Homo sapiens: one gene and its partners. The protein of the gene in region 2 interacts with the protein of the main gene of each other region in a pairwise test. Each region holds a gene or a part of one and is shown on either strand. Other genes may lie near its edges.

The links.
Region 1: the proteins of SEMA5B (region 2) and ANXA7 interact in a two-hybrid assay, tested with the Homo sapiens proteins (one large-scale study listed by BioGRID and IntAct).
Region 3: the proteins of SEMA5B (region 2) and NUDT21 interact in a two-hybrid assay, tested with the Homo sapiens proteins (one large-scale study listed by BioGRID and IntAct).

What each region holds. Positions count from the first base shown.
Region 1 is NC_000010.11:73,386,559-73,390,058, forward strand, and holds part of ANXA7 (annexin A7), read right to left. Parts: intron 1,857-3,500; coding exon 1,754-1,856; intron 1,226-1,753; coding exon 1,131-1,225; intron 1-1,130. UniProt on the Homo sapiens protein: Calcium/phospholipid-binding protein which promotes membrane fusion and is involved in exocytosis.
Region 2 is NC_000003.12:123,021,006-123,025,105, forward strand, and holds part of SEMA5B (semaphorin-5B), read right to left. Parts: intron 1-4,100. UniProt on the Homo sapiens protein: May act as a positive axonal guidance cue.
Region 3 is NC_000016.10:56,428,633-56,431,482, reverse strand, and holds the end of NUDT21 (cleavage and polyadenylation specificity factor subunit 5), read left to right. Parts: 3' UTR 1-2,350; downstream 2,351-2,850. UniProt on the Homo sapiens protein: Component of the cleavage factor Im (CFIm) complex that functions as an activator of the pre-mRNA 3'-end cleavage and polyadenylation processing required for the maturation of pre-mRNA into functional mRNAs.

The sequences.
Region 1 (3,500 bases), on a different chromosome or scaffold from region 2:
AAAGAAGTTTGCCATGAAAAAAAGAAAAGGTATTCAAGGCCAGGAGAATGGCATGTACACAACACAGAAGCATAAAAGATCATGGCGTGTACAGAGAATGGCAAGCATTTCCATATTATTTTTTTTTGAGACAGCGTCTTGTTCTGTCACCTAGGCTACAGTGCAGTAACACAATCACAGCTCACTAACAGCCTGACTTCCTGGGCTCAAGCAATCTTTCTACCTCAGCCTCCCAAGCAGCTGGGACTATGGACACACGCCACCACGCCCAGCTAATATAATTTGTTGTCATCGTTGTTGGAAATGAAGTCTCCCTATGTTGCCCAGGCTGGTCCTGAACTCCTGGCCTCAAGAAATTCTCCTGCTTTGGCCTCCCAAAGTGCTGGGATTACAGGCGTAAGCCACCACGCTCAGTCCATATAATTTTAACATAGGACACGTTTAGAGAAAGGGAGAGAAGCAGAAGGCGATGCCCAGGACCAAGAATAAACAAGGGCTATGTAATAAGCCTTGAATCCCACTGTAACAGGCAGAAGACTGAGAACCATCCTCTTGATCATGATTGTAGTTGTGATCTACTTTCTACTGAATGTCTATCACATATGTGACTGGGGTAAGGTATGATTATGAGATCAAGGACTACTCTAGAATGAAAAAGCCTTTTAAGAGAAATAGGCCAGGCATGGTGGCTCACGCCTGTAATCCCAGCACTTTGGGAGGCTGAGGCAGGCGGATCACTTGAGGTCAGGAGTTAGAGACCAGCCTGGCCAACATGGTGAAACTCTGTCTCTACTAAAAATACAAAAATTAGCCAGGCATGATGCTGTGCACCTGTAGTCCCAGCTACTCAGGAGGCTGAGGCAGGAGAATTGCTTGAACTCGGGAAGCAAAGACGGCAGTGAGCTGAGATCGCACCATTGCACTCCAGCCTGGATGTTGGTGCGAGACTTCATCTCAAAACAAAACAAAACAAAAAACAGAAATAGGGAATACAGTACCCTTGAGGTCTCTAAAGTCTAGTTGTCCCTCTTTTGCACCACAGGTACTAATCAAAATATAGTATCCAATCTGACATGAATGCAGAGTCTACCAGCCACTGCTGGTGCTCATTCCAGGAAAGAAAAACATACCTTGCCATAGGAGGTCTTAAATGCTGCTTTAATTTTTTGCCTCTGATCATTGGAACGGTTGGCCACCACATCCACAATTGCCTGCTCATCTGTCCCTGGAAGAACCACACATGTTTAAGTAAGGACAAAGTACATGCTAGGTGCTGCTTGAGGTCATCTTTTTTTTTTTTTTTTTTTTTTGAGACGGAGTTTGTCACCCAGACTGGGGGTGCAAGTGCAATGGTGTGATCTAGGCTGACTGCAATCTCCACCTCCCAGGTTCAAGCAATTCTCCTGCCTCAGCTTCCCGTGAAGCTGGGATTACAGGCATGCATCACCATGCCCAACTATTTTACTTTTTATTTTTAGTACAGATGGAGTTTCGCCATGTTGGCCAGGCTGGTCTTGAACTCAGGTGATCTGCCCACCTCGGCCTCCTAAAGTGCTGGGACTACAGGTGTAAGCCACCACACCCAGCCTGAGGTCATCTCTTAGAATGCTTACAAGGCACTAGACATCAGATTAAATCCAGGTATGCGCACCCAGGCTGACACATAAACTTGGGTTTATGAGATAAGGTTTATTTTTACTTTAGAACTGATTACTTTAACTTATTAAAAAAGACAAAAATTTGTTTTCCTTACCAAAACCCTTCATTGCCTTACGAAGAATTTCTGCATCTCTTATAGCATCGAAGTTGGCAGCTGGTCGGATAGTTCCTTGAGTGACCTGAGTCACTGTGGCAGGCTGAAAATAAAAGGCATAAAATCCGTGTCAGCATTTCCAGTAAGTTTCTAATGAGGAAACTTAAAGACTTCCCCAGACATCAATCTTAAGTAAGAAGGCCAATGTTTGGGTTTTAAGGCAAGGATATGAGCATTTTATTACCAGAGCTCATTATGGAACAGACAGGAAAGACCTATCCCCCTTCAGGACAGATTTTTCTCCTGCCAACAGATAGCCAGACACCAAACTTCCAGGAGACAAGATGGCCAAACTTGTGAAATTAAAGTCACAATCTTACTATAGTTTCCTTTTTGGTAGAATAGGAAGAAAAAAGAAGACTGATCCCTGAATGGTGTGAGATGAGCGACAATGTTTGATTTAAAAACAGAAGAATATAAAATGGCTTTAGTGAAGTAGCACATGAATGCCCAGTGAGATTTCAAACCAGCAATATAATTTTAGTAATCTCTCTTAATTTCCTATATGGACCCTGATTATTATACATGAAATAAATCTATATGAAAATTAAAAATTGCCATTTAGCAAATACTATGGTAGTAACTGTTTCAGGCAAGAATCAACAGTGGGTGCTAAAATTAGGTGGCAAAAGTATAAAGAAACAGGATATTTGTATAACCTATAACATTATAGCAGAGAAACCTTGCAGGCACCAACTTAAATGATCAAAATTAATTATCACCAGTAATGGAATAAGTCAATAATAAGTGTCTCCTGATATGATGCACTGGGGGCACAAAATCATTTCTGTGGTACTCTTGCCAAAAAGGCATGACCTGGATTTAACCATGAGAAAATATCAGACAAACCCAAATTAAGAAATATTTTATAAAATAACTGACAGTGTTCTTCAAAAGCATCAAGGGCATGAACAACAAAGACTGAGGAACTATTTCAGATTAAAGGAGACTTAAGAGACATGACAATAAATACAACATTGCATTCTGGATTTGATCCTGAACCAGAAAAAGGACATCATTGAGACAACTGGTGAAACTGAAATAAGGTCTGTAGGTTGGGTAACAGTACTATATCGATGTTATTTCCTGATTTTGATCATTGCATTGTGTTTATGTAGGAAGTTAACATTTGGAGAATCTGAGTAAAGGGTATATACAAATTATTTGTACTATTTTGCAAGTCTAAAATTATGTCAAAATTAAAAGATAAAACAATTTAAAATACAAAGCTATGAAATAATTCAATAGTTTCCCCCAATTTTTTATTTTTTAGAGATAGGCTCTCACTCTGTTGTTCAGGCTGGAGTGCAGTGGCACAAACATAGCTCACAGTAACCTTGAATTCCTGAGCCCAAGCAATCCTCCTGCCTCAGCCTCCTGAGTAGCTAGCACTACAGCCATGTGCCACCATGCCCAGCTAATTTCTTACTTTTGTAGAGACGGGGGTCTTGCTATGTTGCCCAGGCTGGTATCGAATTCTTGGCCTCAAGTGATCCCCCTGCCTTGGCCTCCCAAAGTGCTGGAATTACAGGTGTGCGGCCAGCCCAGAATAATTCAAGAAGTTTCTTAGGGTGTTCAAGTCAGGGCTTAAGAGGGATGGGATGAAGATGATGCTCCACTACTTTTTAAAAAAATTTTAATTGTAACAACACATTTCTTGTATGTTTGAATGTTGACCTAAAATAAA
Region 2 (4,100 bases):
GCCTTGGGGACATTCATGTAAGTGCTCTTTAGACCTTGCCTGTTTGGAGCTTTTACCACAAGGACACTGCTCTACACTTAGACTCCTGATGGGACCTAGGGTATCCCTGATGCCAAACACTGAAAGTCCAGGCTCTACCAAAGGAGGAAGGAAAGAAAGCCCGGATCCCGGGAAATCTGCAGGGGTCTGACCCTGCATCAGCCAGAGCTAGTGGTATTTTCCTCTTCTGTCCTGCTTTCGGGCAGAAATACACACCAACCAACAGGGCAATGTGTAAACCTTAAAAGCAGTCTGCTTTGAGTGGATGAGGCCTCTCAGAGAGGGCTCCTAGCTTCCCCCAGGCGCCTTGAGGGAAGAGAAGCAGAGGGAGCTGGCTGCTAGAAACAAAAGTTTGTATGAAATGATAAGATCTGCCCCAGCTACTCACTACAGATATAGAGTTACTCAAGGCACCGAAAGCAGGGAAAGAAGAGGCCTGAGTTGGGTGCTTCACACACTTGTCCCTGAATAATTAAGAGCCAACTGCAGCTCTTTTGTATTCCTAACAGGGGGGCTCTTGGGAGGCCTTCCGGACAATGGCTAGGGCAGTAGGGAGGGAGCTATGGCTCAGGTAGACCAGTGGGACTGGCAAATAGGGATGGATCTAAATTGTTACCCTGCAAGCCATTTCCCTAAAGTTGCCTCCCAGGGCGGGCTTACATCAGCTCTGGCAGGGAACGAAACTGCGGACAGAACTGCGGTTAATCCAATGGTCAGCCGGTAACACACAGATTTGGAATACCTTTCATCTACATTTATATGTGCATATATGTATGTATGTTTATATGCACATGTATGCCTCAATATACAGCAGAGTTACCTTCCAGATGATATTTGGCTCAGGCTGAGGCAAAAAGGAAAATGCATTCTCTGAAGATGCAGTGACTGGCAGTCGGTCAGATGGGTTAACAACAGGGGGGTTGGATGGTAACTGGAAACTATCCTGAGACTCACATTCCCCACAAAGAATCCACAGAAAAGTCAACGAGCCACTCCTGGAAAATCAAGAAGCGACTGCAATATCCATTCAAAACCACTGACTTGAGGGCCAGAAAGGGCTTTAAGATTCTTCTGAACACCTCCCTTTCACAGATGAAGAACCCAGTGGTTTGGCAGAGGTGCTCAAGCAGAAAAGCCTCCCTCATTTCTAACCCAGCCTCCCCACTCTGTAACTGAAACCTGTAATTTGATCCTCAGGGGACTGGCAGGACAGATGGTCACTAAACATCCTTCAAGTACCAACCTTTCCCATCACAGAAGATGCTGGCCAGGACATTTCTGGTTCAAATGAAAGATACTCTGATAATATCGACAAGGCTTCAAATTCAAACAAGTTCCATGCGCAAGTCTGATTAAGTCATCCTTATTAAACGCAGAACAATGAGGACAGTGTCATGGCGGGATTCAGCACATACAGCATTGCCTTTAAAGCTTTCATGTACTCAGGGAAAGCCCGATGGAATCCTTGTCCTTCTATTTCAAGTCAGAGAGTGGAGGAGAATCAGCAGACCAACTGCCAAGAAGAGAGCTCAAGGTTAAACTCTCCTGACCCAGTCCCCATCCCAGAGGTCCCTCCTTCTGCTTTCTCTCCTGTGCCCAGCAGCAAATTGGACAGAAAACCATCTTCATTTTTTATTCCACTTTGAAGCCACCAAGTCGAATAATTTCTCACTGGTGAGTCCCCCACTCAAATCAGGACTGAGAGGCCATTCTGCAAGGTTTGGGTTTCATCTCTCATGCTCACTAAAACAGAAGGGAAGGGAAGTATCATGGCAGAGCCACACAACATTCAGCACCCTTCTGTCCCTTTCCTTTCAGAACTCGACTCTCAGCTGGAACTTCTCCCTGCCATTTTCTAGCATTCAAGCTGGTTATAAAGGAAATTTCTTCAGAAGGAGAGTATTGGAGGAGATCCATCTGAAATAGAGAATGGCATACACGAAGATCCTGTTCCAGATTACCCATTAGAGGATCATCTCCTCAGCTAAGGCAGATGTCATCAAACCAAAAGTCACAGAGAGGGGGGTTTGCAAAAGTATAGCACGATGCCAGTGAAAAATCCAGGTGTTGTCCACACAAGCTATAAATGAAGGGCTCAATTCTGTCAATTCAATGAAATTCCATTAGTCCAGGCATTTGCTTTGGCCTCTTGCCATACATTTAAGACCAAGTTAGTTAAGTGTTGTCATAAATTTAAGGCCAACTTAGTGATAGGTAAACTCATATGGAAAGATCTGAATGTAAAGAAAACTCATTCATTAGAAGTAACTATTTCCAGCACACACACACACACACACACACACACACACACACGAAATGAAGACAAGCTAGTGATCAAGGTGACTGAATGAGGCAAAAGATGGTCCCCAGAACCCACTGGGGTTTAGATCTTTAAGTATAAGTAACACTCCCTCCAAGCACTTGTGCATCCCCAGAGCTCCAGATGCCCAGATCTCCAGGAGCCTGGCTTTGCATCTATTTACACCACAGGTACAAAGTAGGTGTTTAGCTTTGATGAGTGAGGAATCTGAGGCACAGAGAGGGAACTTGGAACTAGGAAACAGCTAAGGTGATGGGATCCTAGCCCTCTCACCCTCCCCCAAAACCCTGGACTCCAAGTCCTTTGGACAACTCCACATTAGCTGTCAGGTCCCCCAGACAAACCCACAGGGGAAAAAACACCACAGTAAATCACCACAGATGTTGAGGCAATGCTGATAATTGTGTACCCTTAGTCATGCTGATTTACCCCATCCTGGGAGATCAGAGGCATGTGTTGTTTACTGTTGTATCCATGGCTCCTAGAACAGTGCCTGGCACATAGTAGGTGAGTGAACACAGGAGTTTACTGCCACTGGATGGTCTCTTTTACCCTGTACCCAGGCAGTGACAAAGCCAACACTTGAAGATCATGGGAAACATCTGTCTACTGCCAGGGTATAGGTGGTGGGGCACCAGAACTCAGCTCTGGGTTCTTTAAGGCAATATAACATAACAAGGTGGCATGCACTTCTAATCAGGGATCTTGTCTTTTTGTCTTCTTTGTCCATTCTACCACCTCAGTCATCAATGAAAGTGGTGAACTGGTTGGCTGGTAATGAGTTGCTAACTCAGATCATTGGATATAAGAGGGTGACCAAGACTAAGCACGGGAGTGTTATGGTCAGTGTTCAAATAATTGGACCCAATAGCATCATCTTCCTAAATACACATACTCCATCCATAAATGTCTGCTGTTCCTCTATCCCCTTGATGGGTTCCCATCCCTCTTTTTAGATCCCCACTCAGGCATCAGGGCTTTCTGGATGTTCCTTGGAATCTGCAAACATCCAATGTGAGCTTCTAGTCTTATCTCATCTAACCCTATTGCTACATTAGATGAAACAAAAAGTTATGGTTGAATTTTCTCTTTTTTGTAAAAAATAAAATTGGTTTACACCCACTGGATTCCCAGTGGGAATGGGGACAGGAGATCTGAATCCAGTCTTTGCTCTGCATGTGGAACCTTATATCAATGGATGTGATGTGCTCAGATTTGAGTAAAACAAGATGGCTCCCTCAAGGAACTTATCATCTGACAGAAGAATCTTAATGGGCCCTGAGAATGAGGGTGAGCCAAGGGCCCAACAGGTCAGAGGTAGAACCAGGCCATGAGATATTCCAGTCAATCCCCAAGGTACAGGGAGACAAGATAACATGTATATCCAAGGCAGATGAGCTCACTTCTTAGAATCTTAATATCTTTATCTATAGATATAAGGGGTCAGGCTACTTAAAGGCTGTTAATTGATTTTGTTAGGATCATTTCACTTGGCCAGTTTGGCTTTGAACTCCCAATTGTCCATAAGCTGGGCCACTCTAATTGCCTGATCAACACACTGTGACCTGCCTGCCCTCTGTAGGCATTTGAATTTGTGCTTCCCCTGACATGGACAATCTCCAGGGCCTCTCCCAGCTTTGAGTCTCAATAAGAAGTGACCACTGTAGGGTCTTTCAAACAAGCCAGGAAGTTCATCCTAAGACAAGAAAGTTTCTGGGGCTCCTCCAGTCCTAATGGGGAG
Region 3 (2,850 bases), on a different chromosome or scaffold from region 2:
GGTGATGTCAAAGGTATATGATACTTGAGGAAATCAGGCCAAGTGTAGCTGAGCAATTAATAAACACTCAAGTTTTTTTAGTTGGGGTCATGTCAAACCCTCACATGGTGGTTAAGTAGTGACTAACTGTGCATGTCCTTCATGGTAGGTGAGCACCAGTCTCCATGATCAAAAATGCCCCAGTTTCCTTTGAAAAAGCCACTAGTTCTGTGAATTGTCCTTTTCCCTCCTGCCCCTAACAGTCCTACCCCTCTAGCCTACATTAGCATATTTCTCATGTAATGTATTTTGCTGGTAAGCTCATCCATTAGCTGCGTCCTTCAGCTATTCCTTTAGATTGGAGGAAGTGGATATGAAGATGGATTGATTCAGCTCACCTTCCATGATTGCTTTTGAGGGAAAAGCTACAGTGGCCACATTTCAGATGTTCACTTTTGCAATTTGTGGAGGGTGGAGAGAGGTAGACTTTTGTTGTGTGTTTTATAAAGTACTCTCAGTAAGGAGTGTTTGAGTTGAAGAGTCATCTGATTCGAGGCCACTCATGTTCTTTGTAACTTAAACTTTGACCAAGAAATTCTTCACTTCTCACTTCTTCACTTCTTCCCAATATACAGTAAGTACGTGAGCCAGTCATCCATACACTAAGGCCTAGTTGAGAAAAACCTTTGATTCAGGATGGCTGGGTTACTAACCTTGAAATGTAAGAGATCTGGTTTTGAATGTAAAAGTTGCAACACACAAACGGAAGTCTTAAAAACTTTTTGCTCTGGTCAGTTACAGGTGGATCCCCAATAATCTGTTTTTGGTTTTCTGATGGAAATAATAGAATTAGGGGAAATCAAATCTGGTTGGTAGGTGTCTACAGTATTAGAAGAGGGTATAAGGGCACTGTTTAACACTAAGTTCTAATACTTCCAGAAACTGTGCATTCCAGATCTACATACTAAATGCTCTTATCATTTTGAAATGGGCTCTTGATTAATAGACCCATATTTTTTAGTGGCTTCTATGTTGTATATTTGTCTAAAATGAAAGCTCTTTTGCGTTCTAAAACTACAATATATGTCATCTTATTTTCCCTGAGTATCCAAGTATAGTGCAGATTCTATGTAAAACTACTAAATGACACTGGAATATGTTTAGTAGATTAGGGGGAAAAACTATAAAGGTTTATACAATTGTTTGTAGTTACATTTAGGATGGACTTATCCCTTTGGAGAAGAGTGAAGTTTGTTTTTTCGCCATGTGATGAAGACCACTGTGATTTTTTAAAAAAGTAGATAATACTTAAAATGGCGTAATAATTCTGCACTTGAATTTGTACTGTTAACAGCACATTTGGAAGATTTTAAAACTTTTTATTGTCTTATAAATAGCATTCACTTATTATTTTGGATATTTAAGGGTTCCATTAAGTTAACACTGTATTTGGACAAAGTGTGACCAAATTAGCCAGTCTGTTTTCTTCCATGTTTAATTAGAAGTGAGAGGTAGAAGTACTTCAAATTCAACAGGCCAGCAAGCAATCGGCTTAAAATTCCCTTTCTTAAATGTTGTGCTCTTATGTTCTCGGCTTTTTAATGACTTTATTTTTACAGTACTTGTTCAGTCACTTGAGATGAAATGCTTGGGGTAGCTTTTCCATCCTCAAACTTAATGTTTTTACTAGTTCATAGTGTTTGGAACAGTATATGCCAATCACTGAGACTGCATCAGAGTTTGCAATTTTGTATGTTTCATTGCCAAAGAAGGCTTAGTGGTTGTTGACTGTAGTATAAGTCAGCTTTCTGTAGCATAAGATTTGATTTTCCCATACTTACTTCACTTGTTATACATCACTGATTATTTGGGTTAAACTGGACTCATTTCAAGCAGTTTGCTTTTGTTCAAATCGTGATGAGAAACCTAATACTGTAATTTGATTTGAGCCATAAAACACATTTTAATATTAGCTTGTATTATAGTTATTAAGCTTGTTTTTGTGGAAAAAAACTTACTAAAACCTAGGTAACTCTAGATTAGGCCAGTTCAGGTGTATTTTGTATCTTAGTAATGGATCATATCGTAAAAATAGAGATAAGTTGGGAAGATATATTGATTATGCTGTTCTGTTGAGGGAAAGGTCATGTATTTAGAAATTTAAACTTTTGGTTATTGTGTTCACATCATAGTATTCAAGCATCATTTATAGTTTGGTTTTGAGAACTTTTCTGGTATTACGTTTATGGCAAATGTATAAAAGAAACAAGTTTTGGTTATATTTTTATATTTGTAAAGTAAGTTTGGTTAAAGTGATCACTGTTCTTTTTTTATTTTATTGTCATTTCAATAAAAAATATTTGAAAGAGAATGACTCTGTGATTGTTTTGGGATAGTAGTCCTGTATGTGTGGCTGCTGATCCTACTGTGCTAGTAGAAATCTTGCATGGTTCGTCACTGTGAGTGGCCGAGGGCCTTTAGGTAAGAGACAGCTTAGCATAATAGCAAGGGCCTGATGGCCTGGGTCACTGATGTTGCCCTCTCCTTGTGCCCCACACACTCCCTCCTCCCATTGTGTGTTAGCAGTGTTTCAGTTTCCTGAGGTGTGAAAGGGTCACTAGATTTGGAACATGAAGGCCACAAGTTAGAAGTTGCTACACAGTTGTGTTAACTGTGTGTAGTCCATATCATTGGGGACTGAGTCCGAGTTTCCTCATCTGTAAAGGGAGGGTTGACTCCTTTAGTTTTTTTTCTCAAACTTGCCTGGAATTCATAATGTTCTATGACACACACCATACCTGCTGCATATGTAATACTGTGTAATTCAATGTTATCTTAAATAGAAAGTTTACCCAAAATACGGGAATATAT